Regions from separate parts of the Homo sapiens genome. Here all the other regions are linked to region 1. Evidence: fine-mapped expression QTL. A gene starts in region 1. Each other region holds a variant in brackets. All regions are shown on one strand. Distances are between the middles of the regions. Region 1 holds the start of NSMF (NMDA receptor synaptonuclear signaling and neuronal migration factor). Region 2 overlaps PNPLA7 (patatin like domain 7, lysophospholipase). Region 3 overlaps EXD3 (exonuclease 3'-5' domain containing 3). Region 4 holds the start of ENTPD8 (ectonucleoside triphosphate diphosphohydrolase 8). Region 5 overlaps EXD3 (exonuclease 3'-5' domain containing 3). Region 6 overlaps NOXA1 (NADPH oxidase activator 1). Region 7 overlaps EXD3 (exonuclease 3'-5' domain containing 3).

Region 1 (4,071 bases):
CTGTGACCTGAGCACCTGTTCTCTGTTCCAAGCCTCACAGTGGCTGCTGCTGTCAGACCCTGGCAGCGGCATGCACCCCCAAACCTGTCTATGCCCTGACACAAACCCCTCACCAGACACACGGTCAACGCTGTACATCCTCTCCAGCTTCTTGCGGCGACCGGAGGTCTCAGGCAGAGGTGGCTGGTCCAGCCCAAAGGCCCGAGGGGTGGGGCCAGGAGCCAGCTGGGCACATCCGGGGCACTCCTTGGAGCCCTGGCGGCTGCCCGCCCAGCTCTGGCAGGGCCTGCTGACGTCCTCCCGGCTGCCACCAGGGCTGGCGCGCAGGGGCTGGCTGTGATGGTGAGGGTGCCGCTGCCGCCGCCCCTTCACCACCGCCAGCTCAATGGCCTCCGCCTCAGGGCTGGGCAGCAGGGCAGGCTCCCCAGAGATGGTGTACACTCGAGGCTGAGGGCCCTCGCCTGCGGGCTTCCTAATGCTGGGCTCCTCTGAGAGGCTGCCCTCGTAGCAGCCGTTGGAGACGAGGGACAGGCGGCGCTTGTTCTGGGGGGCCGGCTGCATCTCGGGGGACCCGTCGTGGCCAGAGTAGGCATCAGCCAGCAGGTGATCTAGGAGAGACACTGAGTGAGCCTGCCTGCCGCGTGTGGGCCCCCCGCTGCCGGTTTCATAGCAGGCCGAAGGCAGAGAACACCCAGTGGGCACCTGGCCTCTGTGGGGGACTAGGGCTGCCCAAACCCTAGTCACTGGCGTGTTTCTGAGCCCCTCACTCCTATCTGGGCCTGAAGCTCTAGCATGTGCGTGGGGGCTGGGTGACGCTGTGCTACCTGTGTGCGGTCCTGCCGGGTAGGAACACGCAGGCCATCCCCCAGCCTGCGATCGCACCGTTTGCCTGGTGCCAACTTCCCCCTCCCCCCACCAGCTGGCCCCCAGAGGCAGTGGTGCCAGCCCTGGGGGAGCCAGGAGGCCTGTTGCCATGCCAACGGCCCAGGCGGGGTGGGTGCCATGGTGACGAGCGGCTGGGAACTGCTCCTGGGGCTCGGGCAGGGAGGGCAGGGGATGTAAGGAAGCCAGGCCGGCAGGGCGCCGGGCCCACGCGCAACCAATGCCCCTCACGCTCCACCCCCGGAGGCAGGGATCAGCATCCCTTGGGCTGGGGGGTCTGGGCGGCCCTGGCACGGCCTCGCGTGCCCCTACCTGCGCCGTTGCGGTTCTCAGGGTGACTCTGGGACAGGTACTCTCCAAACGCTCGGGCTGCTCTGAGGGTGGACAGAGGGCACGGTCAGAGGCCACGGCACGACCCTCCCAAACACCGGGCCGCGCAAGAGCCGGGGGTCCGGTCCCCAGCCAGGCCCTCGGCGTCTGGAAGGAGGGTCGGGGTCGTCCCCCTCCGGGAGCCCACACACCCTTGGTCCTGGTGCGCCCTGGCCAGGCCTGCAGGCCCGGCCCCTGCCCGTCGGACCGTGGAGAGGGGTCGCGAGGCCGGTCGGCTGCTGTTCCCCGGGGGAACCGAGGCCACTCCCGACCTGGGGGGTGCGCTCGCCCACCACGCGCTCGCGAGGGGAGGGGAGGGAAGAGCAGGGCAGGGGACCAGGAAGAGGGAGGCGCGGGGCGCGGGGAGGGCGCCTCAGTGGCAGAGGCCGGGGCCCGGGAGCCCGGGGAGCACCGCGGGGCAGGGGCGGACTCGGGCGGGGTCGGAGGTCCAGGGCGGGGTGCGGGAAGGCGGCCCCGCCGCACTCACCGCACTTTGGCCGCCACCGAGGACATGGCCTCGCTCCTCAGCGCCCTCCTCCTGGAGGCGGCGGCGCCCATGGTCGAGGCGGCGGCGCATCCCCCGGGCCTCAGAGCGCGCCCCGCGCCCGCCGCCTCCGCCGGGGTAGCCGCGCCGCACCGGGGGTCGCGCTCGGGCTCGGGCTCGGGGTCTCGCTCGGGCTCCGGCTCGGGCTTGGGCTCGGGGTCGGGCTCGGGGTCGGGCCCGGTCCCCGCATGGCCGCACCCGGCGCTCCGCGCGTGCCGCCGCTCCCGGGAGAGCGCTGCCCGAACCGAGGGCCGGCCCCGCCCATCGTGACGTCAGGGCCCGGGCGGGCCCAGAGGGGCGGTCGGCCCCACCTACCGTGACGTCAGGGCCCCGGAGAGCTCGGAGAGGACATGTGGCCCCGCCCACCGTGACGTCCGGGCCCGGGTTGAGTTGGGGGCGGGGCCGGGCGGCCTGGCTCCGCGCCCTCTCGTCCAGGCCTCCAGAGCGGGGAAACTGAGGCCAGCGGCCCCCTGGTCGCAAAGTCCTGGGCCCTCGGCCCTCACGATCTGCTGCTCAGACCTGCAGGATCACAGGGAGGCCGGTTCTCCCTCCCCTTACACAAAAGGGCTCCCTGTGCAGTTTGGGAACTGGAAACCGAAGGGGAAGCCAGTTTAGGGGGCACCCAGTTTGCACGAGGCCAGAGAGAGACAGAGGGGCCCGTCCTGGTCCTGGGGGGCCACAGCTCTATGCAGACTCTGGACGCCCTACCTGCCTGGCCTGCATTTGCCGCCCTAGGGCTCTCAGGCCCCAGCAGTGGGGTCCTTTGAGGAGGACTGGGGACTGCCCAGCCTCAGGGACCACCCGCATCAGGGAGAACCAGTAGTGTTTCTTTGCCACAGGGACCTCGGCCCGGGAGACACGTCCAACAGTGAGATCCACCTTTATTGAAACATCACACGGCAGCATCAGGGCTCCCACACCTCACAGGGCAGCAGGCAGTTCACAGGACAGCAGGCAGTTCACAGGGCTTTGGGGGCCTCACAGGGCAGCAGGTGGTTCACAGGGCTTCGGGGGGCCTCACAGGGCTTCGGGGGGCCTCACAGGGCTGCAGGGGGTTCACAGAGCTTCAGGGGCCTCACAGAGCTTCAGGGGCCTCACAGGACTGCAGGGGGGCTCACAGGGCCCTGTATGCAGGGCTGCTGGTACAAAGAAGAGGCCCAGAGAACCCTAACACAGCCTGGGGCCCCGGGGAAGTCAGGGCTTCCAGCAGGGCAGGTACAGAGGCCCCTAGGACTTGGCAGGAGCCTCAGCCTTGGGGACAGTCCCACGGAAGACGCTGCATCCGGGCTCTTTAGCAGAGGCCTCTACCCGTCCTGGTCAGAGGAGCCCTCAGACAGTTTTGGGAAAGCCAGACTGGGGTGTCGATGCCGCAGTGAGGACTCGTCCTCCTGCAAGCAGACCGCATGTTCCAGGTGAGGACCAGGCAGGGCAGGGGCTCTGCAGCGCTGGTAACCCGGTGGGACCACAGGGAGGGAGTGGCCGGCACAGGGCCAGGCACCAAGGCTCAGCTGTGGGCACCAGGTGGGACCATGCCCAGCTCCTCACCAAGTCTGAGCCCTGCTGGGCTGAGGTGCTCTGGAAGTCTGCGTATGCATCCCTGGGGACGTCCAGCAGCTCCTCCTCGTACTCCGTCTGGTAGTCAGATTCGTCTGGCACCGAGGGTAGGGCTGCGTCAGTCCCCTCCCAAGGAAGGGACCGTACCCAGCATAGCCACACTCAGAGGCAGAACCGGCCACAGATGCCCACCCCCGCCTCCAAGGTGGCCCGGGGCCCTACACGCAGCCACCTGGTCCCAGGGCAGCCCTGCACACCACCCCTGGTTCTGTCTGGCTCCAGCTTTGCCCCAGCACATCACTTCGTGGGTCTTCCACAAGGACAAGGAGCGGGCAGACACTCCTCCCCTTGTCAGCCAAGCACCCTGAGGGCTCCAGCACCCCAGACCTGGCAACTGTGGATAGGGGCTGCCTTGCCCAGGGCCCTCTCGGCCTGCGGCAGCCATGAAGACGTCTCCCAGGAGAATGTCCAGTTCTGCTGTGAGGAGGCCACTGGCTGAAGGCCCAAGCGCAGGGCCCTGGATGGAGCATGGAGGGTAGTGGACCCGCCCTTCTTGTCCTGCGGCCCCTCCAACAAGCAGCCTTCATTCCCATTTCCCACTGGGTGGGGTGGGAGGCAAAACGTGGTTCTACTTCAGGCCTGAGGTGTGGCTGGGAGTTGAGGTGAATGAAGGGCAGGGGCTGGGTGACCCGGGGTGGTCACAGTCCCACTGCTGTGGGAAC
Region 2 (4,071 bases), 48 kb after region 1:
CTTTGCAGCCACTGTCCTCCACACCTGGAACCACTGCCCAACAGAGGCAGAGAGGAGGCCACGGGCCCTGGGTGGGACAAGGGCCAGGTGCCCGCCGGGGCCACTCACTTCCAGCTTCATCAGGGTGAGCAGGTCCTTCTTGGCAGCTCTGAAGATGGCATCCGACTTCCTGCTGGCCAGGGTCTCATCCGTGTGACTCTCTGAGTGCTGGGAGACCGTGGAGGGTATCTCTGCAACCATCACGCTTTTCCTGGACTGGAGAAGAACGGAGATACCGGCAATTCGAAGGGATGTGGTTGGGGAACATCGCACAAGGGTGTGGTCAGGTCTGAATCGCACAGTGCGGAAAGGCCGGCTGAGCCTCCTGAAGCTGCAGGTGCCACATGACACCAAAGCCGGCGGCGCCCCCAATGCACCAGCAAGCCACGGAGAGGGTGGGGCCCCAGGCGGAGGGTGAGAATGACAGCCAGGGCCTACCTTGCTGGCCACGGAGCTCCCGGGGTGCTCGTCCGAGTGCAGGAAGACCCTGGCACGGTCACATGCCATCCCCAGATCAGAAGTGGCACTGCCTGGGCCCCCTACACACAGAGGGGACACTCAGGACACGGTTCGCTAGGCCACTGACACAAACGTCCGCGGTGTGGGCTGAGCACACCCTGCAGTCTAACCACACAGACCCCGGCAGCTCCCTCGAGGGAGTCGGGCCCTGAGATCCCTCCACACCCTGCTTTCTTTCGGCATCTGCCTCAATGGCTCTGTGACCCACCAGCTACAGGTTTTCTCCGCAGCTTAAACCCACACGGTGCCTTCAACATTTCTGGGCACTGATAAAGGTAGCCCGGTCGGTACCTAAAACACGGAAGGAAACCAGCCCTGGTCCTGAGCCAAATTCCTCAAACCTTGCCATGCGTGCCACACCCTGACGGCTCGCTGCGGCCAACCCTGGGTAGAGCACCCTTTCTCTTGCTGTCCATCTCAGGGATGCTGCCGCCCTCTGTATGTGAGCTCCCCTAACGGGTGCCCTGGGCCGTCACGCTGGTGCTTTGGGCTTGGCTCTTTGCAGTCCCAGCCCCATCTCAGAGGTTCGCTCTTCGCAGTCCAGCCCCATCTTGGAGGGAGGGGGTTGAGGCACCCCCTCCAAAGAGCTCCCCTGTTGCTGCTTTTGGGCGGCCTCGGGCTGAGCGGGATGAAGCAGTGTGCACCCTTTTACAGCCTGCCCTCAGCATTACACATCACTACACACACAGCGTATCTGACCTCTGGACCAGCTGCTGTGGATTCTGAGGAAGGGTGCACGCTTTGCACGACGGGGTCACGCACTTCCAGGCACAGATCCAGCCCTTCGTGTGCAGCTGCGCATGCGAGCGAGTCATCTGCACTGCGGTTTCCCATCCATACTGGAATTCGCAACACCCATTTCTCAGCGGAATACAGAGGAACCGCGCAGACACTAACCGCAGACACATGCCACACAGATGCCGCAGCCACATGGCGCTGCGGGAAGGAACCAGGCCCAGGAGCACAGCCATGTGCCCCTCCCTGGGAAGCCAGACAC[A/G]GAGAGCCAGGAGCGCTGGGCCTTGGAAAGGGGCGCATGTCTCCGAGGCTTACGCTGAGGGTGCGCTGGTCGGGTTTCACGGAGCTGGCACCCTTCAGCCCGGTGCACTGTGCTGTGTATTACTCATGCCCCCGTCAAGTCCTGCTGTTTTTTAAAAAAATCCGAACTGGAAAGCAATCTATGGCAACAAAGGTCACCAGTGCTTCCTCTGGGGCTGACCCTCTGGGCTGGGCGAGAGGAGCGCAGCAGCCCCTTTACCTGGCTGCAGCCACACAGGGGAACACTGGGGTGTAATGACCACACCTTGTACGTCAACAAGCATGTAGCTAAATGATAAAATTTCTCACACCTATAGTCCCAGCACTTTGGGAGGCTGAGGCAGGCAGGTCGCCTAAGGTTGGGGGTTCGAGACCAGCCTGACCAACATGGAGAAACCCTGTCTCCACTAAAAATACAAAATTAGCCGGGCGTGGTGGCACATGCCTGTTACCCCAGGTCCTCGGGAGGCTGAGGCAGGAGAATCCCTTGAACCCAGGAGGCAGAGGTTGCGGTGAGCTGAGATCGCACCATTGCACTCCAGCTTGGGTGACAAGAGCAAAACTGTGTCTCAAAATAAATAAATAAAATAAAATACGGGGGCCAGGCATGGTGGTATGCACCTGACAAGAGCAAAACTCCATCTCAAAATAAATAAATAAAATAAAATACGGGGGCCAGGCATGGTGGTATGCACCTGTGGTCCTTGCTGCTCAAGAGGCCAAGCCGGAAGGATCGCTTGAGCCCAGGAGTTTGAGGCCTGGACAACATAGTGAGAGACTGCATCTCTTAAAAATAAATACATAAATAAATGGGCCAGGTGCAGCGGCTCATGCCTGTAATCCCAGCACTTTCAGAGGCCAAGGTGGAGGCAGCGCTTGAGGCCAGGAATTCAAGACCAGCCTGGGCAACACAGCAAGAGATCTCTATCTACAAAAATTTTAAAAACCAGCCAGGTGTGGGGGCCACACCTGTGGTCCCAGCTACCCATGAGGCTGAGGCGGGTGGATCACTTGAGCCCTCATGGGCTGAGGCAGGTGGATCATTTGAGCCCAGGAGCTCGAGGCTGCAGTGAGTTGTGATTTCACCACTGCACCCCAGCCTGGGCCATGGAGCAAGGCCTTACCTCAAAAAAAGAAAAAGAAAAAGTGGTGGATCAACTAGATAGCCATTTAGAAAAGGATGTATCAGCCGGGCGCGGCAGCTCACGCCTGGAATCCCAGCACTTTGGGAGGACGAGGCGGGCGGATCACGAGGTCAGGAGATCGAGACCATCCTGGCTAACACGGTGAAACCCCGTCTCTACTAAAAATACAAAAAATTAGCTGGGCATGGTGGTGGGCGCCTGTAATTAACAGCTACTCGGCGGCTGAGGCAGGAGAATTGCTTGAACCCCAGAGATGGAGCTTGCAGTGAGCTGAGATCGCACTATTGCATTCCAGCCTGGGCAACAAGAGCGAGACTCTGTCTCAAAAAAAAAAGAAAAGGAAAAAGAAAAAAGAAAAGGATATATCTTGACCCCTACTCACTTTCTACAAAAGAATAAATTCTAGATGGATCATATGAAAGGTAAAACGTTAAATCTTACAGACAGATTTCTTAAACAGGACACAAAATATATTAACCACAAAAGAAAAATATTGATAAATTAGATCCCATTAAGTTTAAAATTTCCTATTCATCAAAAGACACCACTACGATAGTAAAAAGTGAATAGAAAATATTTTTAATATACATACTTGACAAAGGAATCATACAGAGAATATATAAAGAATTCCTATTAATAATAAGAAAATGAAAGCTAAGAGGAAAATGGGCAAAAGACAAAGAAGGCTATCCAAGGTGCTCGGCCTCACAGTTCATCAAGAAGACAGAATCAGAGCACAGGCAGCCTCCACTGCACGCCCACCAGAAGACAGAGAGCAGCACATGCTGGGCCGGAAGTGGCCGCTAACCATGGGCGGCCAGTGAGCACCTGAAGTGTGGCTGGCATGAGTGAGTTTAGCTGGTACGAATGAGTTTAATTGGCATGAGTGAGTTTAGCTGGCATGAGTGAGTTTAGCTGACATGAGTGAGTTAGCTGGCATGAGTGAGTTTAACTGGTATGAGTGAGTTTAGCGGGTACGAGTGAGTTTAGCTGGCGTGAATTTAGCTGGCATGAGTGAGTTTAGCTGGCATGAGTGAGTTTAGCTGGTACAAGTGAGTTTAGCTGGTGTGAGTGAGTTTAGCTGGTACGAGTGAGTTTAGCTGGTACGAATGAGTTTAGCTAGTACGAATGAGTTTAGCCGGTATGAGTGAGTTTAGCCGGCGTGAGTGAGTTTAGCTGGCATGAGTGAGTTTAGCTGGTATGAATGAGTTTAGCTGGTACGAATGAGTTTAGCTGGTACGAGTGAGTTTAGCCGGCGTGAGTGAGTTTAGCTGGCATGAGTGAGTTTAGCTGGTACGAATGAGTTTAACTGGTGTGAGTGAGTTTAACTGGT
Region 3 (4,071 bases), 59 kb before region 1:
CTGTCTCAAGAAAACCCCAAAAAACCATGAATAAAGTTAAAAAATATGGTTTTAATGAGTAAAAGGAGAGAAATGAAGATTATATGAAACTACATAAAAGAGCTAAATGGAAACTCGGCAATAAAAAGTGTCATCACTGAAATGTGTTTGACTCAGTGGCTGTGCTTCACAGCAGGTGGATGGCAGATGAGTCAGTGAATCTGAAAACAGATCAAAGAAGGACCAGATTGAAAGAACGAGGGGGAAAGACAGAAGGAACTGTGGCTCCACGGTCCACAGCCGGGCGCCCTCTGTTCCCCTGGTGAACGGCCCCGTCTGCAGCACTGCACGCCTGGCTCTGGGGTTCACACGCTTTGTGGAGACACCCATTCCCCAGCCTCTGCCTGCCTCCGTCTGGATGGCTGCACTGCAGCCCTGCTCACCCTGGACCCCCTTCCCTCTTGTCCCCTGTGCTCCCCGAAGTTCACCTCCTAGTTCTAAGGGAGCACCTTTTCCAGGAGCACCTCAGGCAGAACCGCAAGGGAGGAGCACTGAGTAGCCCTTTGCTTGTCTGAGAACGTCCCCATGACACATGTGCACCCATGTCCCCAAGACACACAGGCAACCGCGTCCCCAAGACACACAGGCAACCGCGTCCCCAAGACACACAGGCAACCGCGTCCCCAAGACACACTGGCACCCGCGTCCCCAAGACACACAGGCACCCGCGTCCCCAAGACACACAGGCGACCGCGTCCCCAAGACACACAGGCACCCACGTCCCCGTGACACACGTGCACCCGCATCCCCAAGACACACAGGCACCCGCGTCCCCGAGACACACAGGCACCCGCGTCCCCGTGACACACAGGCACCCGCGTCCCCGTGACACACAGGCACCCGCGTCCCCGTGACACACGTGCACCCGCATCCCCAAGACACACAGGCACCCGCGTCCCCGTGACACACATGCACCCGCGTCCCCAAGACACACAGGCAACCGCGTCTCCGTGACACATGTGCACCCGCGTCCCCAAGACACATCCCCAAGACACACAGGCAACCATGTCCCCGTGACACGCGTCCAACATCCTCGTAACACGTGCACACCGACATCCCCGTGACATACACAGACTGTCCCTGTGGCACAGGCGCATCCACGTCCCCATGACACACGCACACTGCACCTCCACTGGAAGCCTGGCTGTGCGTGGCTGTGGGGCAGGGGTCATTCTCCTGACGGTCATGGTAACGCCCCTCTACTGTCTTCTAGCCTCAGGGGTTGCTGAGAAATCTGATGCCCCCTGACTCGAGTGCCAGCATCTTCTGGGGAGACCCCGGGGCCGTGGCCGGATCCCAGCAGGACGGACATGGTGTGGTCCCCTGGGGGCTCCGTGGCCACCCTTCTGCATGTGGCTTCCCGATGGTGTCCTGCCCTCCACGCCCTCAGTTCTGTCCTCAGGAACTCCTGCTGTTTAGAACTTACACTTCCTGAGAATTACTTTGTCTTCTCATCTTTCCTTCTCTGCCTTTTTGGGAGATTTCCTGAACTTTATTTTGCAACCCTCTCACTGAAAG[G/T]TTCATTTCTGCTATCACAAATTTAATACTATCCACGAGTTCTGGTTTTCTGAAGCTTTTTACAAGGGTCTCCTCTCTTATTCCTGGCTTCTCTTCCTAACCCCCATATTAGTTCATTTTCACGCTGCTGATAAAGACATACCTGAAACTGGGAACAAAAAGAGGTTTAATTGGACTTATGGTTCCACATGGCTGGGGAGGCTTCAGAATCATGGTGGGAGGCGAAAGGCGCTTCTTACATGGTGGTGGCAAGAGAAAATGAGAGCCGGGTACAGTGGCTCACTCCTGTAATGCCAGCACTTTGGGAGGCTGAGGCGGGCAGTTCACCTGAGGTCAGGAGTTCATGACCAGCCTGCCAACATGGCGAAACCCTGTCTTTACTAAAAATACAAAAAGCAGCCAGGCGTGGTGGTGGTGCCTCCCAGGTACTCAGGAGGCGGAGAAAGGCGAATCACTTGAACCTGGGAACAGGGGTTGCAGTGAGCTGAGACTGCACCATTGCACTCCAGCCTGGGTGACAGAGCAGAACTCCATCTCAAAAAAAAAAAAAAAAAAAGAAAATGAGGAAGAAGCAAAAGAGGAAACCTCTGATAAACCCGTCAGATCTCATGAGACTTACTCACTATCAGAAGAATAGCATGGGAAAAACTGGCCCCCATGATGTAATTACTCCCCCTGGGTCCCTCCCATAACGTGGGAATTCTGGGAGATACAATTCGGGTTGAGATTTGGGTGGGGACACAGCCAAACCACATCATTCCGTCCCGGCCCCTCCAAATCTCACGTCCTCACATTTCAAAACCAATCATGCCTTCCCAACAGTCCCTCAAAGTCTCAACTGATTTCAGCATTAACCCAAAAGTCCACAGTCCAAAGTCTGATCTGAGACAAGGCAAGTCTCTTCCGCCTATGAGCCTGTAAAATCAAAAGCAAGTTAGTTACTTCCTAGATACAATGGGGGTACAGGTATTCAGTACATACAGCCATTCTGGGCCGGGCATGGTGGCTCATTCTTATAATCCCAGCACTTTGGGAGGCCGAGGAGGGTGGATCACCTGAGGTCGGGAGTTTGAGACCAGCCTGACCAACATGGAGAAACCCTGTCTCTACTACAAATACAAAATTAGCCGGGCGTGGTGGCACCCACCTATAGTCCCAGCTACTTGGGAGGCTGAGGCAGGAGAATCACTCGAACCTGGGAGGTGGAGGTTGCAATGAGCCGAGATCGCGCCATTGCACTCCAGCCTGGGCAACAGAGCGAGACTCCATCTCAAAAAAAAAAAAAAGTTCCAAATGGGAGAAATTGGACAAAACAAAGGGATTACAGGGCCCACGCAAGTCTGAAATCCAGAAGGGCAGTCAAATTTTAAAGCTCCAAAATGATCTCCTTTGACTCCAGGTCTCACATCCAGGTCATGCTGATGCAAGAGGTGGGTTCCCATGGTCTTGGGCAGCTCCACCCCTGTGACTCTGCATGGTACAGCCTCCCTCCCAGCTGCTTTCACAGGTGGTGTTGAGTGTCTGCTGCTTTTCCAGGCACATGGTGCAGGCTGTCGGTGGATCTACCATTCTGGCATCTGGATGACAGTGGCCTGCTTCTCACAGTCCCACTAGGCAGTGTCCCAGTAGGGACTCTGTGTGGGGGCTCCCACCCATTTCCTTTTTTTTTTTTTTTTTTTGAGATGGTGTCTCACTCTGTTGCCCAGGCTGGAGTGCAGTGGCGCGATCTCAGCTCACTGCAAGCTCCACCTCCCGGGTTCACACCATTCTCCTGCCTCAGCCTCCCAAGTAGCTGGGACAACAGATGCCCGCCACCACACCCGACTAAATATTTTTGTATTTTTAGTAGAGACGGGGTTTCACCGTGTTAGCCAGGATGGTCTTGATCTCCTGACCTTGTGATCTGCCTGCCTCGGCCTCCCAAAGTGCTGGGATTACAGGTGTGAGCCACCGTGCCCGGCCCCCACCCATTTCCCTTCTGCACTGCCCTAGCAGAGGTTCTCCATGAGGGCCCCGCCCCACAGCAAACTTTTGCCTGGACATTTAGGCATTTCCAAACATCTTCTGAAATGTAGGCAGAGGTTCCCAAACCTCATTTCCTGACTTCTGTGGACCCACAAGCTCAACACCACGTGGAAGCTGCCAAGGCTTGGGGCTTCCACCCTCTGAAGCCACAGCCCGAGCTCTATGTTGGCCTCTTTCAGCCACGGCTGGAGTGTCTGGGACATGGGGCACCAAGTCCCTAGACTGCACACAGCACAGGGACCCTGGGCCCAGCCCACAAAACCACTTTTTCCTCCCGGGCCTCCAGGCCTATGATGGGAGGGGCTGCCATGAAGGTCTCTGACATGACCTGGAGACATTTTCCCCATGGTCTTGGGGATGAACATTAGCCTCCTTGCTACTTATGTAAATTTCTGCAGCCGGCTTGAATTTCTCCTGAAAAAATTGGTTTTTCTTTTCTACTGCGTCAGGTTGCACATTTTCTGAATTTTTATGCTGTTTCCCTTTTTA
Region 4 (4,000 bases), 20 kb before region 1:
TTTGTGGTAATTTGTTACCAGAGCCCCCAGGAAACAAATTCGGGGCCTCCTGTTTTCCCCTCTCAGGATCCTGGAGTGCAGGCACCCCTGTAACTACCAGCCTCGGCTGCCAGCACCACGTGGTGCCAGGGTGGGGAGCACCAGGGGCCAGAGAGGGTCAGGGCTGGAGGCAGCAGATGCTGGGCAGACCCAGGCCAGGCCATGAGAATCTGACTGCTCACCAGGATCAGGCAGGGAGGTCCCCAGAGTGCCACCGCGTGAACGCAGGCTCCGGCCCAGCACCCATGCCCGGCGTGTGAGCTCAGCCAAGTCACTGAACCTCTCCAAACCCTTTCCGTGCAGCTGGGAATCCCAGCCAGGCAGCAACAGGCAGGTCCCAGCACCGGGCTGCAGAACAGCCCACTAACCTTCCACCTGGCAGGCCAGGGCCTGGCTGACCACACCCGTGCCATTCTCCTTGTTCGCCAGCCACTGATACAGGAAGAGGGACGTGTGGGAGGAGCCCGCATCAAACACGATCCCAAACTGGGGAGACAGTGGGATGAGTGGGAGGCAACACCTGTGGACCCGGCCCGGCCTCCCCTGCCGGCGGGGACGCACCTTGATGTCTGTGGGCAGGAGCACGCTGGTGGCCTCCACCAGGAGGAGAATGAGTGCCGTGAGGCCTGAGACCCCCGAGGCCCCCAGCAGGGCCAAGAAGACCTGCTCCTTCCGGGACAGCCCCATGGTGCAGGTGGTACTGGTTCCTGTGGGGGGACGGCCGTGGGCACCCAGGCTGCACTTGGTGTCCCCATCCCGCCCTCCAGAGGCAGAGGCTTCGCTCCCCGTCTCCCTGGAGACGCACCCCTGGACAGCCACTTGCCTTAGAGGCATCTCCGGGGCTCAGACGCCTCCCGTGGCCATAGAGGCATCCCCGGGGCTCAGACGGTCTCCCGTGGCCTTAGAGGCATCTCCGGGGCTCAGGCGGCCTCCCGTGGCCATAGAGGCATCTCCGGGGCTCAGACGGCCTCCCGTGGCCATAGAGGCATCCCCGGGGCTCAGACGGCCTCCCGTGGCCATAGAGGCATCCCCGGGGCTCAGACGGTCTCCCGTGGCCATAGAGGCATCCCCGGGGCTCAGACGCCTCCCGTGGCCAAGGACCACTCCCCAGGAGCCACGCCTGCCAGGGGTGCCATGGGCATCAGAGGGCCCTGTGGGAGGGGGGCGGGGGGCAGCAGAGGCCTCGTCTGGGGACACAGCCCCAGCAGGATCCAAGTAGCCCCCTCGGACCCCCTCGGATGGGACTCGCGGAGCTGCCCCCACCATGTGATGGGGCCACCCTGTGTCCCCACCCCTCGGTCCTGCCTCTCCCGTGCCACCCTCCCCAGGAGCAGCCACAGCTCCAGCCTGCACTGGGGGCCCAGGGCTCTGCCTCCTCTCTGCGGCCCCCACCCCAGGCACTCCTAGGGTGGGGGTTTCTCTCTGGAGCCCTGAGGGGACTGTTGCCGAGGGGCTGTGGGTGAACCCAGGGTGAGGCCAGCCATCCTAG[G/A]AAGCCGAGTGTGAGGCTTCTTAACAACATCGGTTTCTCTGGAAATCCAGCCCAAGGCTTCCCTAATCTGACTCTGCACCTTCTTAGCTGGTGCCAGATGGCGCCTGGTCGGGAGGTGGACCCAGGGATGCCATCTGAGGGGCCTGGGCTTCTCTAGCCCTGTGGCCGAGGTGTCCACCTCCTCCTCTGCCCAAACGCCCAGCAAGGGTCTCAGCTCTCAAACTACCCCAGGCCGACCCTGTGCCCCATACAGCCCCACTTCACACGGGTACCACTGCCAAAGGAGTGGTCAAAGCCAGAGGCTGCCTGCCAAGGTCCCGGCACCTGAACCCCATGTGACCGTGTCCTATCGTGTTCCCCCGGGAAACGTTGCACCCACACTGAGTGGCAGGCGCGGGTGCTGCCCTGGTCCTGACCTGGGGCTCCTGGGCACGTGGAAAGTGGGACACGCTGTGGGGTCCTCACGCAATTCTGTATGTCCGGGGGATATAAGCCCATTTTAAGGAGGGTAGATGACAGAGGCTCAGAGAGGACAGGAGGCCGGTCCAGCCCAGACAGGGCCCAGCCTGTGTCCCCAACCAGCACCCAGGCCATAGGCCACCTCATAGGGACAAACAGGTGACAGGGGCCAGGAACACAGGGACTCCACACCCAGAAGATGTAGCCACCTGAGACCCCCAGGCCTGAGCCTCCAGGTAGGCAAAGAGGTTGGGGCAACCTCTCCCACACTCAAAAGACCCCCAAGACCAGAACAGCCTCCCAGATCAGAACAGCTCCTCAGACCAGGAAAGCGCCCCCCAGACCAGAACAGCCCCCCCGAGACCAGGACAGTGCCCCCAGACCAGGAGAGCCCCCCAGACCAGGACACCCCCTCAGACAGAACAGTCCCCCAGACCAGGACAGCCCCCCAGACCAGGACAGCCCCCCCCAGACCAGGAGAGCCCCCCAGACCAGGACACCCCCTCAGACAGAACAGTCCCCCAGACCAGGACAGCCCCCCCAGACCAGGACAGCCCCCCAGACCAGGACAGCCCCCCCAGACCAGGACAGCCCCCCCAGACCAGGAGAGTCCCCCAGGCCAGGACATCCCCTCACACAGAACAGTCCCTGAGACCAGGACAGCCCCCCCAGACCAGGACACCCCCTCACACAGAACAGACTCCCAGATCAGGACAGCCCCCCAGACCAGGACAGCCCCCCAGACCAGGACAGCCCCCGCCAGACCAGGACAGCCCCCCCCAGACCAGGAGAGCCCCCCAGACCAGGACACCCCCTCACACAGAACAGATTCCCAGACCAGGACAGCCCCCAGACCAGGACAGCCCCCCCCAGACCAGGACAGCCCCCCAGACCAGGACAGCCCCCCCCCAGACCAGGAGAGCCCCCCAGGCCAGGACACCCCCTCAGACAGAACAGTCCCCCAGACCAGGACAGCCCCCCAGACCAGGACAGCCCCCCCCAGACCAGGAGAGCCCCCCAGACCAGGACACCCCCTCAGACAGAACAGTCCCCCAGACCAGGACAGCCCCCCCAGACCAGGACAGCCCCCCAGACCAGGACAGCCCCCCCAGACCAGGACAGCCCCCCAGACCAGGACAGCCCCCCCCAGACCAGGACAGCCCCCCCAGACCAGGACAGCCCCCCAGACCAGGACAGCCCCCCCAGACCAGGACACCCCCTCAGACAGAACAGTCCCCCAGACCAGGACAGCCCCCCCAGACCAGGACAGCCCCCCAGACCAGGACAGCCCCCCCAGACCAGGACAGCCCCCCAGACCAGGACAGCCCCCCCCAGACCAGGACAGCCCCCCAGACCAGGACAGCCCCCCAGACCAGGACAGCCCCCCCAGACCAGGACACCCCCTCAGACAGAACAGTCCCCCAGACCAGGACAGCCCCCCCAGACCAGGACAGCCCCCCAGACCAGGACAGCCCCCCCAGACCAGGACAGCCCCCCAGACCAGGACAGCCCCCCAGACCAGGACAGCCCCCCAGACCAGGACAGCCCCCCCAGACCAGGACACCCCCTCAGACAGAACAGTCCCCCAGACCAGGACAGCCCCCCCAGACCAGGACAGCCCCCCAGACCAGGACAGCCCCCCCAGACCAGGACAGCCCCCCAGACCAGGACAGCCCCCCAGACCAGGACAGCCCCCCAGACCAGGACAGCCCCCCCAGGACATCCCTTTGGACCCTCACCTGGGCTGGCTGCCCACTTCCCGGAGCGGCAAGGAGGAAGCTGTGCTTAGACGCTTCTGTGTCCGCGCACCTGGCGTCCAGCCTCTCCCTGCCCCTGGGTCCAGGACAGCTGGGGTGGGCGGGGCAGGGCGGTGACAGCCTCGGGCGATGCGCTGTGCACCTGGCTCCAGGGCCCGCAGGCTGAGGCCAGCGCCCAAGGTCGCCCCGCCCACTCCACCCTCGGGTCCCCCGCCCAGGGTCTCCCCGCATCTCCCACCCGCGGGTCTGTCTCGGT
Region 5 (4,071 bases), 140 kb before region 1:
GAGGGGCTGGCACAGGTGGCAGGTCGCTGCCTGGGGCTGCAGCCAGGGCCCAGGGTACCCTCCAGGCCAAATTCCCCGCCGGCTGTTTGCAGTCTTTCAGATCCAGATGCTCCTTCCCTCACTGCCTTGGTCCTGGACAGCTGGCGCTGCCCTCTCCAGCCTGGACAGTTGCTGGCCCCCCACGGGGGTGCAGCTCTGGCCTTAGCCCCTCCCAGGCCTGCTCTACCTGCAGCCCCCCTGGGCCTGGCGCTCCTGCTTGCCACAGCAGGGGCAGCTTGGGGGTTGCAGGGTGTGGGTGGCAGAGTGGCATCAGCAGCTTGGAGCTGCCAGTAGCCAGCAAAGAGGCAGGGCGGACATGGGTCAGGGCGGCCCCCACTGCTCAGCCCCCGACGCCCCCATCCCATCCACTCAGCCAGGCCAAAGTCTGCCCTTCTGCCTCACACCCTGGACACCCTTCTCCATGCAGGGCTTGGCGGCCCCTCCATGCCTGGCCTGGGTCCTCAGGGGCACTCCCCAGCACCCGGCTGGCCAGGGCTCCAGCAGGGGTTTCCTCCCAGCTACCCAACTTCCTGTTTTCTCAAGAAAATGCAGCAGCCGATTCTGAACAGCTCATTAACATGCCTCCCCAGGCGTCCCGGACATCCTGGGGTCTTTACAGCGCTTGCTGGCCTGAGCACAGACAAAGAGAGGCAGCGGACGCGGTTCCTGCCGCCCCTGGAGCCCAAGGCTGCAGGAGAGGCCCCTGGAGCACACTTCCTTGCCACCTGAGGCAGAGGCCGCGGTCCCCGCAGGGCAGTGGGGTCAGAGGGTCAGACTGCACCCCCAGGCCAGGGGCAGTGGGAGGTCCAGGGGCCTGTGTGTACAGGTGCCTGGCCGGCTGCAGATCCGAGCCGAGCCGGAGCTTTCCCTCTTTCCTTCCTGCTTCAATCCCCGCCAGGCCCAGCCTGAGGCTGTGGGGGCAGAAGGGCGGTAGCAGAAGGCGCAGGCCTGCATCTGTTTCTGCTCAGCCAGGTGGGTGCCCTTGAGGACCATGGGGTGGAGCTGAGCTCAGGGCCCCTCCCTGCCCAGCCCAGGCACCAGCAGGGACCCTGACAGTGGCCTCCATGAGGGGATCTCCCTCCATGAGGGGGTCCCAAAACTTCCCCCAGAATTGGGCTTGGGAGGCTGGGATTACTCACGCCTGTCATCCCAGCACTTTGGGAGGCTGAGGCAGGAAGATCACCTGAGGTCAGGAGTTCAAGACCAGCCTGACCAACATGGTGAAACCCTGTCTCTACTAAAAATACAAAAATTAGCCGCCCGTGGTGGTGGGCACCTGTAATCCCAGCTACTCAGGAGCCTGAGGTGGGAGAATTGCTTGAACCTGGGAGGCGGAGGCTGCAGTGAGCTGAGATTACATCACTACACTCCAGCCTGGGCGATGGAGTGAGACTCCGTCCCACCCCCAAAAAACCCCAGGAAACAAAACTGGGCTTGTTGGAGCAGCCCCGACCTGCTGCTCCAGGCGGAATATTGATGTGGCCCTAACTGCGGAACGTTCTGGAAGCAGCCC[G/A]TACCCTCCACCGGGAACTGCCGAGAGCCAGCACAGCCCACAGTCCCCCTTGCTCCCGTGTCGCCCACGGAGACCCTGGCGCCTTGAGTGGAGGCGCAAAAGGCAGCATCAACTCCCCCCAGACTGGCCATGCCCAGGTGCCAGTTGGTGTGGGGCATAGCAAGCTTGGACAGTGCAGCCCTGGGCAGGTGCCTCAGCCCAGTCCCCCACTGGGGACAGGAGAGGAGGGAGAGAGGTGAGTTGGGCTTTGGTGCCCCCACCAGCCTCCTCTATGGATCTCCACCGAGGTGCGGCAGTTCCCACTCAGGGCTTCTGTTGCCCAGACCTTGTTAGACGTCACCAAGCAGACGCAGGCTGTCCTGCGTGTTGCCTTTGGAAAGTGGGACCCACCCAGCCTGAAGGGACTTCCACAATTTCCCTCGATTCCTTCTAGAAGCCCCATGGGAGCCAGAGGGAATTCCCCAAATCCAAGCCAATGCCTGATTGGAGCTGTCCCCGTGGCCATGCCAGCCTGCACTAGGGATGCTCTGCCGACGCCTCACCCTGGACCAGGGATTCTCTGCCGACACCTCACCCCGGACCCACAAGGGATTCTCTGCCAACATCTCACCCCAGACCCACGAGGGATGCTCTGCCGACACCTCACCCCGGACCCACGAGGGATGCTCTGCCGACACCTCACCCCGGACCACGAGGGATGCTCTGCCGACACCTCACCCCGGACCACGAGGGATGCTCTGCCGACACCTCAACCCGGACCACGAGGGATGCTCTGCCGACACCTCACCCCGGACCACGAGGGATGCTCTGCCGACACCTCACCCCGGACCACGAGGGATGCTCTGCCGACACCTCACCCCGGACCCCCGAGGGATTTTCTGCCGACACCCCACCCCGGACCCCCAAGAGATTCTCTGCCGACACCCCACCCCAGACCCACGAGGGATGCTCTGCCGACACCCCACCGCGGACCCCCGAGGGATTCTCTGCCGACACCCCACCCCGGACCCACGAGGGATGCTCTGCCGACACCCCACCCCGGACCCACGAGGGATGCTCTGCCGACACCCCACCCCGGACCCACGAGGGATGCTCTGCCGACACCCCACCCCGGACCCACGAGGGATGCTCTGCCGACACCCCACCCCGGACCCACGAGGGATGCTCTGCCGACACCCCACCCCGGACCCACGAGGGGTGATCTGCCGACACCCCACCCCGGACCCACGAGGGGTGATCTGCCGACACCCCACCCCGGACCCACGAGGGGTGATCTGCCGACACCCCACCCCGGACCCACGAGGGGTGATCTGCCGACACCCCACCCCGGACCCACGAGGGATGATCTGCCGACACCCCACCCCGGACCCACGAGGGGTGATCTGCCGACACCCCACCCCGGACCCACGAGGGGTGATCTGCCGACACCCCACCCCGGGCCCACGAGGGATGCTCTGCCGACACCCCACCCCGGACCCACGAGGGATGATCTGCCGACACCCCACCCCGGACCCACGAGGGGTGATCTGCCGACACCCCACCCCGGACCCACGAGGGATGCTCTGCCGACACCCCACCCCGGACCCACGAGGGATGCTCTGCCGACACCCCACCCCGGACCCACGAGGGATGCTCTGCCGACACCCCACCCCGGACCCACGAGGGATGATCTGCCGACACCCCACCCCGGACCCACGAGGGATGATCTGCCGACACCTCACCCCGGACCCACGAGGGATGATCTGCCGACACCTCACCCCGGACCCACGAGGGATGCTCTGCCGACACCTCACCCTGGACCACGAGGGATGCTCTGCCGACACCCCACCCCAGACCCACCACTGTCTAGGGTGGGGCCCACCTCCCTGGACACCCCCGTAGCTCCAGATCTTGTGCCAGCCCCAGGTAGGACGGGGTGCGCAGGACCCACCTGGCAGCGGCTGAAGATGTCTGCGTGGGTGACACGCACGTTGAAATGCTTGAGCACAGCCTTGGCCTGCTGCTGGGCCTTCAGGGAGCAGTCGACCGAGAGGCAGCGCCCAGCCCCGACCTGGGCCCGGAGCTGCAAAGACACGGCTCGGCTACTGAGGGGCAGTGCAGAGCCCAGCACCTGCCCAGGCCCAGCCCGCCTCCGCCAGCATGGGGCAGGAGCCTTCTCTCGGCCCACCAGGGGTACGGCAGAGGCGCTGGGGGTCGGCCCCACGGCAAGCTGACCCTGAGGTGGGGGTGGCCGAGGGGCTGGGGGCTTGGGAAGATGGGGCTCAGGCCCACTGAGCTTATCTTTGGGACACTCACCTTGTGGAATGGCTGCCCCGACGTCAGAATGATCCTCCCCTCCTGCCTGGCAACCTGTGTGGGAGGTGCGACCAGCACATAAAGGGGGCAGCTCCGTGCTCCTGGACTGGGCCACCTCTGCTCGCCACCCCCTAGCTCCCCGGATCGTGGCCCTGCCCCAGGCCCCTTTTGTCCTCCAGGGTGGCCTCTGCCTGGGGTCTTGGGTGGTGAGGAGCCCTCTGCCG
Region 6 (4,059 bases), 32 kb before region 1:
TCCCAACATGCTAGGATTACAGGCGTGAGCTAACATGCCCGGCCTGTAATGCAGTTCTTTAGCTGCTGACTCTGGGATCTGGACTGCGTTATCTCGTCTCCAGTATGTGACAGCCAAGGTTGCCTGAGGTCAGGAGTTTGAGAATGTCTTGAACCCAGAGGCGGAGGCAGCAGTGAGCCAAGATCGAGCCACTGCACTCCAGCCTGGGTGACAGAGCGAGACCCCGTCTCAAAAAAAAAAAAAAGGATTTTTAAAAGACAAAAATCTTGCATAACCCCACTCCCCAGAGGTAACTATTATTAACATACTGGAACACTTTTTTCTGGCCTCTGTCCTTGTGCTCATGGTAAACACATTGGTTTTAGCAGCACCTCAGTGGGCTCTGCGCCTTGGACGGGTTGGGGTTGGGTGGGCTGTGGCAACCTGAGTGGCGACAGCCCTGCCCAGGCAGGGGCTCCGAAGGTTCCTGGACAGGAGCAGGAGGGGCTGTGGGGGGTCCCCAGGGGCTGACGGAATTCCGTGGCCCTGTCACCCATCACGCTGTATCTGTGATGCTGCGTGACCAGGTTACAGACCTTGGCATCCCGTGGGCATTTTTGTCCCCAGGCATTTGACCAAGCCGTGACCAAGGACACCTGCATGGCGGTTGGCTTCTTCCAGCGAGGAGTGGCCAACTTCCAGCTGGCAAGGTGAGTACAGGGGTGCCTTGTTCCTTCTCTGACGGCCCTTTGTCTCCCTGCAGAGTCCACTCCTGCACCTCCTCCTCCTCCCTCTCCATCCACTCCCTCCTCTTGCCCACCCCCTCCTCCATGGTTCCTGGCTCCAGGGAAACCTGAGACTGTGGCCCTCGCCTCTGCTGAGCGCCACCCTTGGACACAGGTCGTGGGGTCCTCACTGCTTACCTGGGCTCTCTGCACCATGTCCCTTCCTAAAGGAGGAATGAGGGAAAGGAGACCATCGGGACTGCAGACCAGGCCATGCCTCGGCCTCTCTGCTAGACACTCACAGGCCCCATCCCAGGAGGGCAGGCTCTGTGGGGAAGTGGATCACAGTCCCGAGAGCCTCGCAATCCTGAAATATCAAAACCCCTCAAATCTAAAATCCCAAAAAATATAATTCTAGAAAAAATAAAATTCTGTAAAAGATATTTATTTACTTTTTAAAAATTGTTTTGAGAAGGAGCCTTGCTCTGTCATCCAGGCTGGAGTGCAATTGTGCGATCTCGGCTCACTGCAACCTCCGCCTCCTGGGTTCAAGCGATTCTCCTGCCTTAGCCTCCCGGGTAGCTGGGATTACAGGCATGTGCCACCACGCCTGGCTAATTTTTGTATTTTTAGTAGAGACTGGGCATCACCATGTTGGCCAGGCTGGTCTCGAACTCCTGACCTCAGGTGATCCACCCGCCTCGGCCTCCCAAAGTGCTGGGATTACAGGAATGAGCCACCTCGCCCAGCCTATTTACATATTTTAAAGGGATTTATTTGAGAAACATAAAAACACGACGGAACCCTTCATTGGCCGATAAAATAGACAAAAATAACATACATATTTTTTCAAGCACAAATTCATGCACGCTAGCGACAGGCTCACGGGTGTGAGAACTACGAGCAGATGAACAGTGCTCATGAGGAGCTAGGTCAGAAGGGGTAAGACGTAGGTGCGTAGACTCTGGCTGGTGACTGTGTGCACCTGGCTTTATAACTGGTCATCAAAACACCAAGATGAACAACCCACCTTCTAACAAGATCCATCAAAGGCTTCAGGGACCACCACATACGCAGTCGCCCAGAGAGCCCGGATCTGGAGATATTTTACCTTTCAGAAAGGCAGATGAACGAAAAAGCCATCTCTTCCTTTACTGAAGAGTCCCAGCATTCGGGATTATGGCTGTGGGACTGTCCCTTTCTGGATTACGATCCAGACCCCTCTGGGGCAGCCTCTCCTTCACATCGGCGCGGGAAGCCCGCCTGGAGGAGAGGCCTCTC[C/T]GGCAGGCGCTGGGGAGCTCCCAGCAAGGCTTGGAAGGAGGCTCAGAGTTTGGAGGGGGAGCCCCCATGGGGTGGGGGGCCTGAGAAGCAGGAGGGAAATAACCAGGGCTCTCTGCACGGTTCAGAAGAGAGGCTTGGGGGCGGGCAGGGGCCCAGGAAGCTGAGTCTGAGCTGGGAAAATGGTGGAGCCCCAGCACACAGTGACCCCCACACCCACTCAGCACACATGTGCATGGACCCCTGGCCCACCAGACCTGAGTGTGCAGACCTAGGCACCGCACTGCCCTCCCTCAGGTCTCCTTGGAACCAGGTGTTGGGGGCGGCTCGAGCGGGGCTGGTGTGAAAGCTGCCTAACCACAGCCCCATCTCCGCCCTGTGCTGCTGAGGGGACCCCGGCTGCCCACAGGTTCCAGGAGGCTCTGTCTGACTTCTGGCTGGCCCTGGAGCAGCTGAGGGGCCACGCTGCCATCGACTACACGCAGCTGGGCCTGCGGTTCAAGCTGCAAGCCTGGGAGGTGAGGCCGGGCAGGGCTCACTGTGCTGCTGGCTGTGGGGTGTCCACGGGCGGTGGCACTGTCACAGGAGGGCCCTGTGGACTGGGGAGCGCCTCTGGCCGAAGCTCTTGGTGCCATGGAATACCCTGGCCACTCCTTGACCCGCAGGAGGTTCTGGTGGCAGTGGAGGTGGAGGGACCATTTTGTGCCATTTCAGGCCACCAGGGGTGGCTCCACCCAGAAGGAGGGCAGAGGCGAAAGGCTGCTGGGTGGGCAGGGAGCAGGCAGGGGGTTGTGCCCACCCTCCACTGTGCCCCCAGCCCTTTCCTGGCTGCCTGGAACGTGTTGGCACCGAAGGAGGGGTGCTGAGAGGCCCCCCCACCAGACCCCGGAAATGCATCGCCCTGAAGCCTTCTGGGAATAGCATTGTCTTTTAGGACAAAAAGATGGAAGGGAAAGCCCACTGGTGTGGGTCTGGAGTCAGGGTTAAAGCCAGGTGGGGGCCCGCCAGCCCAGGACACAGAACGGTGCAGGGGAGGGGCCGGGTGGGGGGATTGGGAGAGGAGCTGGGTGGGGAGACGGGGGAGAAGCCAGGTGGGGGGACTGGGGGAGAGGCTGGGTGGGGGGATGGGGGAGGGGCCAGGTGGGGGGACTGGGGGAGGGGCTGGGTGGGCAGACCGAGGGAGGAGCTGGGTGGGGGAACCGGGAGAGGGCCTGGGTGGGGCATCAGGCCCCTGCCATCACCTTGGCCCCACTCCCAGGTGCTACACAATGTGGCGTCGGCACAGTGCCAGCTGGGGCTCTGGACAGAGGCGGCCAGCAGCCTAAGGGAGGCCATGTCCAAGTGGCCGGAGGGGTCCCTGAATGGCCTGGACTCAGCCCTGGACCAAGTGCAGGTGAGGAGTGCCAGCCCGGTCATGGTTTTGGGCTGGTGCCTACCAAAGCTCCTCAAGACCAATTTCATGAGATGAAGAAGCTTCCGGAGGGAGATGGCCCTAGTGCCCAGTTTCGGGTGCCAGGCGGGGGCTTCCTGTGACCTGCGGGAAGGGGGTGGGGGGCCCAAGCGGCCCCTTCTGCTCCAAGGCACAGGGGCTCTGCGGCTGCAGGCCTGGTTGGTCACCCCGTCTGCATCTGCTGGATACCCACCCCCTCCAGAGACGGGGCTCACTGCCGCCACGGCAGGTCCCCAGGGGCGAGGTCTTCCGGCCCCACCGGTGGCACCTGAAGCACTTGGAGCCCGTGGATTTCCTGGGCAAGGCCAAGGTAAAGGTGGGGACGGCGTCCTGGGGCATGGCGGCTGGTGCTGAGCCCTCGAACTGTGTTCCCAGGGATGGGGGGAGGTGCAGTCCAGGCCACCGTAAGGGCCAGGAGGGTAGAGAGTGGGCCCACAGCCATCCTCAAACTGGCGCCCACGGTAGGGGGGCGGTGCCCCAAATGGGGCTGTGAGCTTGAAGGCAGAGCCCACTAGAGCCGGCTGCATAGGAGGGGGCTCCAGCTCTCTCAACAAGGACCCTGCAGGTGCCACCCCGCCCCCAGACTGGGCCATGGCCACAGCCACAGCCTTGCAGCCTCCCAGAGTC
Region 7 (4,071 bases), 130 kb before region 1:
CAGTTAACTTTTTTTTTTTTGAGATGGAGTCTCACTGTGTCGCCCAGGCTGGAGTGCAGTGGCACAATCTCGGCTCACTGCAAGCTCTGCCTCCCGAGTTCAAGCGATTCTCATGCCTCAGCCTCCCAAGTAGCTGGGACTACAGGCATGCACCAGCACACCCAGCTAATTTTTGTATTTTTAGTAGAGACGGGGTTTCTCCATGGTGGCCAGGCTGGTCTCAAACTCCTGACCTCAGGTGATCTGTCTGCCTTGGCTTGCTAAAGTGCTGGGATTACAGGTGTGAGCCACCGCACCCGGCCAAATCGTTAGTTATCTTTAAGAGTGCAAGACCAACTCAAAAACATCAGAGCTAATACTATAAAACTCTTAGAAGAGGCTGGGCAAGGCGGCTCGTGCCTGTAATCCCAGCACTTTGGGAGGCTGCGATGGGTAGATTGCTTGAGTCCAGGAGTCCTAGACCAGCCTGGGCAACAGAGCAAAACCCCATCTCTGCAATAAATAAAAAAACTAGCCAGGCGTGCCTGTAGTCCCAGCTACTTAGGAAGTCGACGTGGGATGATCACCTGAGCCGGGAGGTCAAGGCTGCAGTGGGCCGTGTTTGCGCCATCAGACTCCAGCCTGGGCTACAAAGTGAGAACCTGTCTCAAAAAAAAAAAAAAAAAGACTCTTAGAAGAAGACACAGGGGAACACTTCCTGGCGCTGTATTTGGCCAGGATTTCTTCGATATGACACCGCAGCAAAGGCAGCAAAAGAAACACTGGAGCGACTGGACCCTCATTACAGTGAAATGTACACGTAGGACACTCTGGAGGAATAAAACACCTCAGGGTGGAGACGTCGGTATTTGCAAATCACGTATCTGACGAGGGGTTGATATCCAGAGTATAGGAGGAACCCTATAATTCAACAACAGAAAAGCAAATAATCCAGTTTAAAAATTGAAGGGCAGGGCACGGTGCCTTACGCCTGTAATCCCAATACTTTGGGAGGCTGAGGCGGGAGGATGGCCTGAGCCTGGGAGGCTGAGGCTGCTGTGAGCTGTGATCGTGTCACTGCACTCCAGCCTGGGTAACAAAGTGAGACCTTATCTCAAAAAGAAAAAAAACAGTTGGCAAAGGACTTAAATAGACACTTCTTCAAAGATATACGCGTGGCCAATAAGCACATGAAAAGATGCTCTACATTATTCGTCATGAGCGACATGCAAATAAAAACCACAGTGAGACATCACATCCATTAGGGTGGCCTTTATAAAAAAAAAGGGAAATAAATGTTGGTGGGATGTGGATAAACTGAACTCTCATGCGTCACTGGCGGGAAGGTAAATGGTGTGGCCGCCGTGGAAAACAGTGTGAAGGTTCCTCAAGAAGTTAAACACAGAGTCAGTAGAGGATTCAGCAGTTTCACCTTTAGCTGTATATGCAAAAGAACTGAAAGCAGGAACTCAAGCACATCCTCATACATCAGTGTTCGTAGCAGCCACATTCAAAAAAAAAAAGGAAGGACGTTCCGACACAGGCTACGTCGTGAATAAACCCTTACGACACGCCGAGTGAAAGATGCCAGATACAAATGGGCAGATACTATATGATTCCACGTCTACGAGGTACCTAGGACAGGTCAATTCATAGAGGCAGAAAGTGGAACAGTGGCCACCAGGGCTAGAAGGAGGGGAGGGGAGATAACTATTGGTAC[G/A]GAGTCTTTTTTTTTTTTTTTTGAGACAGAGTCTTGCTCTGTCGCCCAGGCTGGAGTGCAGTGGCACGATCTTGGCTCACTGCAAGTTCTGCCTCCCGGGTTCACGCCATTCTCCTGCCTCAGCCTCCTGAGTAGCTGGGACTATAGGCGCCCTCCACCACGGCCCGCTGATATTTTGTATTTCTAATAGAGACAGGGTTTCACTATGTTAGCCAGGATGGTCTCGACCTCCTGACCTTGTGATCCGCCCGCGTCGGCCTCCCAAAGTGCTGGGATTACAGGTGTGAGCCACCGCGCCCGGCCAGTATGGAGTCTTTGGGATGATACCCAGTTCTGGAAAGGGGTGGTGGTGATGGATATGTGATACAGTGAATGTGCTAATGCCACTGAATTGTACACTTAAAAATGGTTAAAATGGTCAATTTCGTGTTATGTATGTTTTACCACAAAAAGAAAGAAAAAAAGGGAAACAGAAAGTAGTTACTTCGTGGTAATAACAAATATACACCCATATGATGAGTAAAAACAACCAATATATACCTATATGATGAGTAAAAAACTGATATACACTCATATGATGAGTAAAAACAACAAATATACACCCACATGATGAGTAAAAACAACTAATATACTCCCATAGGATGAGTAAAAACAACAAATATACACCCACATGATGAGTAAAAACAACTAATATACACCCATATGATGAGTAAAAACAACGAATATACTCCCACATGATGAATAAAAACAATGAATAAACACCCACATGATGAGTAAAAACAACTAATATACTCCCATATGCTGAGTAAAACAACTAATATACTCCTATATGATGAGTAAAAACAACTAATATACACCCATATGATGAGTAAAACAACTAATATACTCCCATATGATGAGTAAAAACAACGAATAAACACCCACATGATGAGTAAAAACAACTAACATACTCCCATATGATGAGTAAAAACAACTAATATACACCCATATGATGAGTAAAAACAACGAATAAACACCGACATGATGAGTAAAAACAACTAATATACACCAATATGATGAGTAAAACAATTAATATACTCCCATATGATGAGTAAAAACAACAAATATACACCCACATGATGAGTAAAAACAACAAATAAACACCCACATGATGAGTAAAAACAACGAATAAACACCCATATGATGAGTAAAAACAACTAATATACACTCATATGATGAGTAAAAACAACGAATAAACACCCATATGATGAGTAAAAACAACTAATATACACTCATATGATGAGTAAAAACAACTAATATACACTCATATGATGAGTAAAAACAACTAATATACACCTATATGATGAGTAAAAACAAAAGTAAAAACAAACACAACTGGTAAATAAAGTAAATATACGGGAAAAAACCAAAGGAAACGGGTCAAAGGGAAGAAACAGACTAGTTACACAGGAGCTACACGGGACTACACGGGACTACACGGGGCTACACGGGACTACACGGGACTACACGGGGCTACACGGGACTACACGGGACTACACGGGACTACACGGGGCTACACGGGACTACACAGGGTCACACGGGACTACACGGGACTACACGGGACTACACGGGGCTACACGGGACTACACGGGACTACACGGGGCTACACGGGACTACACGGGACTACACGGGGCTACACGGGACTACACAGGGTCACACGGGACTACACGGGACTACACGGGGCTACACGGGGCTACACGGGACTACACGGGACTACACGGGGCTACACGGGACTACACAGGGTCACACGGGACTACACGGGACTACACGGGGCTACACGGGGCTACACGGGGCTACACGGGAGCTACACGGGACTACACGGGGCTACACGGGGCTACACGGGGCTACACGGGAGCTACACGGGGCTACACGGGGCTACACGGGGCTACACGGGAGCTACACGGGACTACACGGGGCTACACGGGACTACACGGGGCTACACGGGGCTACACGGGGCTACACGGGAGCTACACGGGAGCTACACGGGGCTACACGGGGCTACACGGGAGCTACACGGGACTACACGGGGCTACACGGGGCTACACGGGACGACACGGGGCTACACGGGGCTACACGGGAGCTACACGGGGCTACACGGGGCTACACGGGAGCTACACGGGGCTACAGGGGGCTACACGGGGCTACACGGGACTACACGGGAGCTACACGGGGCTACACGGGGCTACACGGGACTACACGGGAGCTACACGGGAGCTACACGGGACTACACGGGGCTACACGGGGCTACACGGGGCTACACGGGAGCTACACGGGAGCTACACGGGGCTACACGGGAGCTACACGGGAGCTACACGGGACTACACGGGGTCACA

The links.
Region 2: its variant is fine-mapped to the expression of NSMF in whole blood (TOPMed, PIP above 0.99).
Region 3: its variant is fine-mapped to the expression of NSMF in whole blood (TOPMed, PIP above 0.99).
Region 4: its variant is fine-mapped to the expression of NSMF in whole blood (TOPMed, PIP above 0.99). The same link has a PIP of 0.9 or more in blood mononuclear cells.
Region 5: its variant is fine-mapped to the expression of NSMF in whole blood (TOPMed, PIP above 0.99).
Region 6: its variant is fine-mapped to the expression of NSMF in whole blood (TOPMed, PIP above 0.99).
Region 7: its variant is fine-mapped to the expression of NSMF in whole blood (TOPMed, PIP above 0.99).

Annotation. Positions count from the first base shown.
Region 1 is chr9:137,457,294-137,461,364 of GRCh38, forward strand. It overlaps NSMF (NMDA receptor synaptonuclear signaling and neuronal migration factor), which reads right to left and starts at 2,041. Exons shown (of 16, transcript NM_001130969.3): 1 at 1,739-2,041; 2 at 1,195-1,256; 3 at 114-608. The coding sequence starts at 1,809. It overlaps PNPLA7 (patatin like domain 7, lysophospholipase), which reads right to left. Exons shown (of 35, transcript NM_001098537.3): 34 at 3,341-3,444; 35 at 2,659-3,183. The coding sequence ends at 3,100. RefSeq lists enhancers at 225-922, 3,746-4,071 and silencers at 1,562-1,831, 1,922-2,271.
Region 2 is chr9:137,505,506-137,509,576 of GRCh38, forward strand. It overlaps PNPLA7 (patatin like domain 7, lysophospholipase), which reads right to left. Exons shown (of 35, transcript NM_001098537.3): 13 at 478-578; 14 at 109-255. Among named protein-coding and RNA genes, the nearest start is that of PNPLA7, 43 kb to the right of the region's middle. The variant A/G (reference allele first, on the strand shown) is at 1,556.
Region 3 is chr9:137,397,936-137,402,006 of GRCh38, forward strand. The region is part of intron 1 of EXD3 (exonuclease 3'-5' domain containing 3); the gene reads right to left. Among named protein-coding and RNA genes, the nearest start is that of EXD3, 23 kb to the right of the region's middle. The variant G/T (reference allele first, on the strand shown) is at 1,558.
Region 4 is chr9:137,437,560-137,441,559 of GRCh38, forward strand. ENTPD8 (ectonucleoside triphosphate diphosphohydrolase 8) reads right to left here and starts at 3,798. Exons shown (of 10, transcript NM_001033113.2): 1 at 3,727-3,798; 2 at 601-746; 3 at 408-525. The coding sequence starts at 726. RefSeq lists a silencer at 3,658-3,952. The variant G/A (reference allele first, on the strand shown) is at 1,529.
Region 5 is chr9:137,320,243-137,324,313 of GRCh38, forward strand. It overlaps EXD3 (exonuclease 3'-5' domain containing 3), which reads right to left. Exons shown (of 22, transcript NM_017820.5): 18 at 3,848-3,901; 19 at 3,483-3,614. Among named protein-coding and RNA genes, the nearest start is that of NRARP, 20 kb to the left of the region's middle. RefSeq lists enhancers at 79-713, 714-1,347. The variant G/A (reference allele first, on the strand shown) is at 1,553.
Region 6 is chr9:137,425,642-137,429,700 of GRCh38, forward strand. NOXA1 (NADPH oxidase activator 1) reads left to right here. Exons shown (of 14, transcript NM_001256067.2): 2 at 607-689; 3 at 2,392-2,500; 4 at 3,241-3,375; 5 at 3,635-3,742. Among named protein-coding and RNA genes, the nearest start is that of NOXA1, 4.3 kb to the left of the region's middle. RefSeq lists an enhancer at 3,261-4,015. The variant C/T (reference allele first, on the strand shown) is at 1,986.
Region 7 is chr9:137,325,431-137,329,501 of GRCh38, forward strand. All of the region lies in intron 17 of EXD3 (exonuclease 3'-5' domain containing 3), which reads right to left. Among named protein-coding and RNA genes, the nearest start is that of NRARP, 25 kb to the left of the region's middle. The variant G/A (reference allele first, on the strand shown) is at 1,700.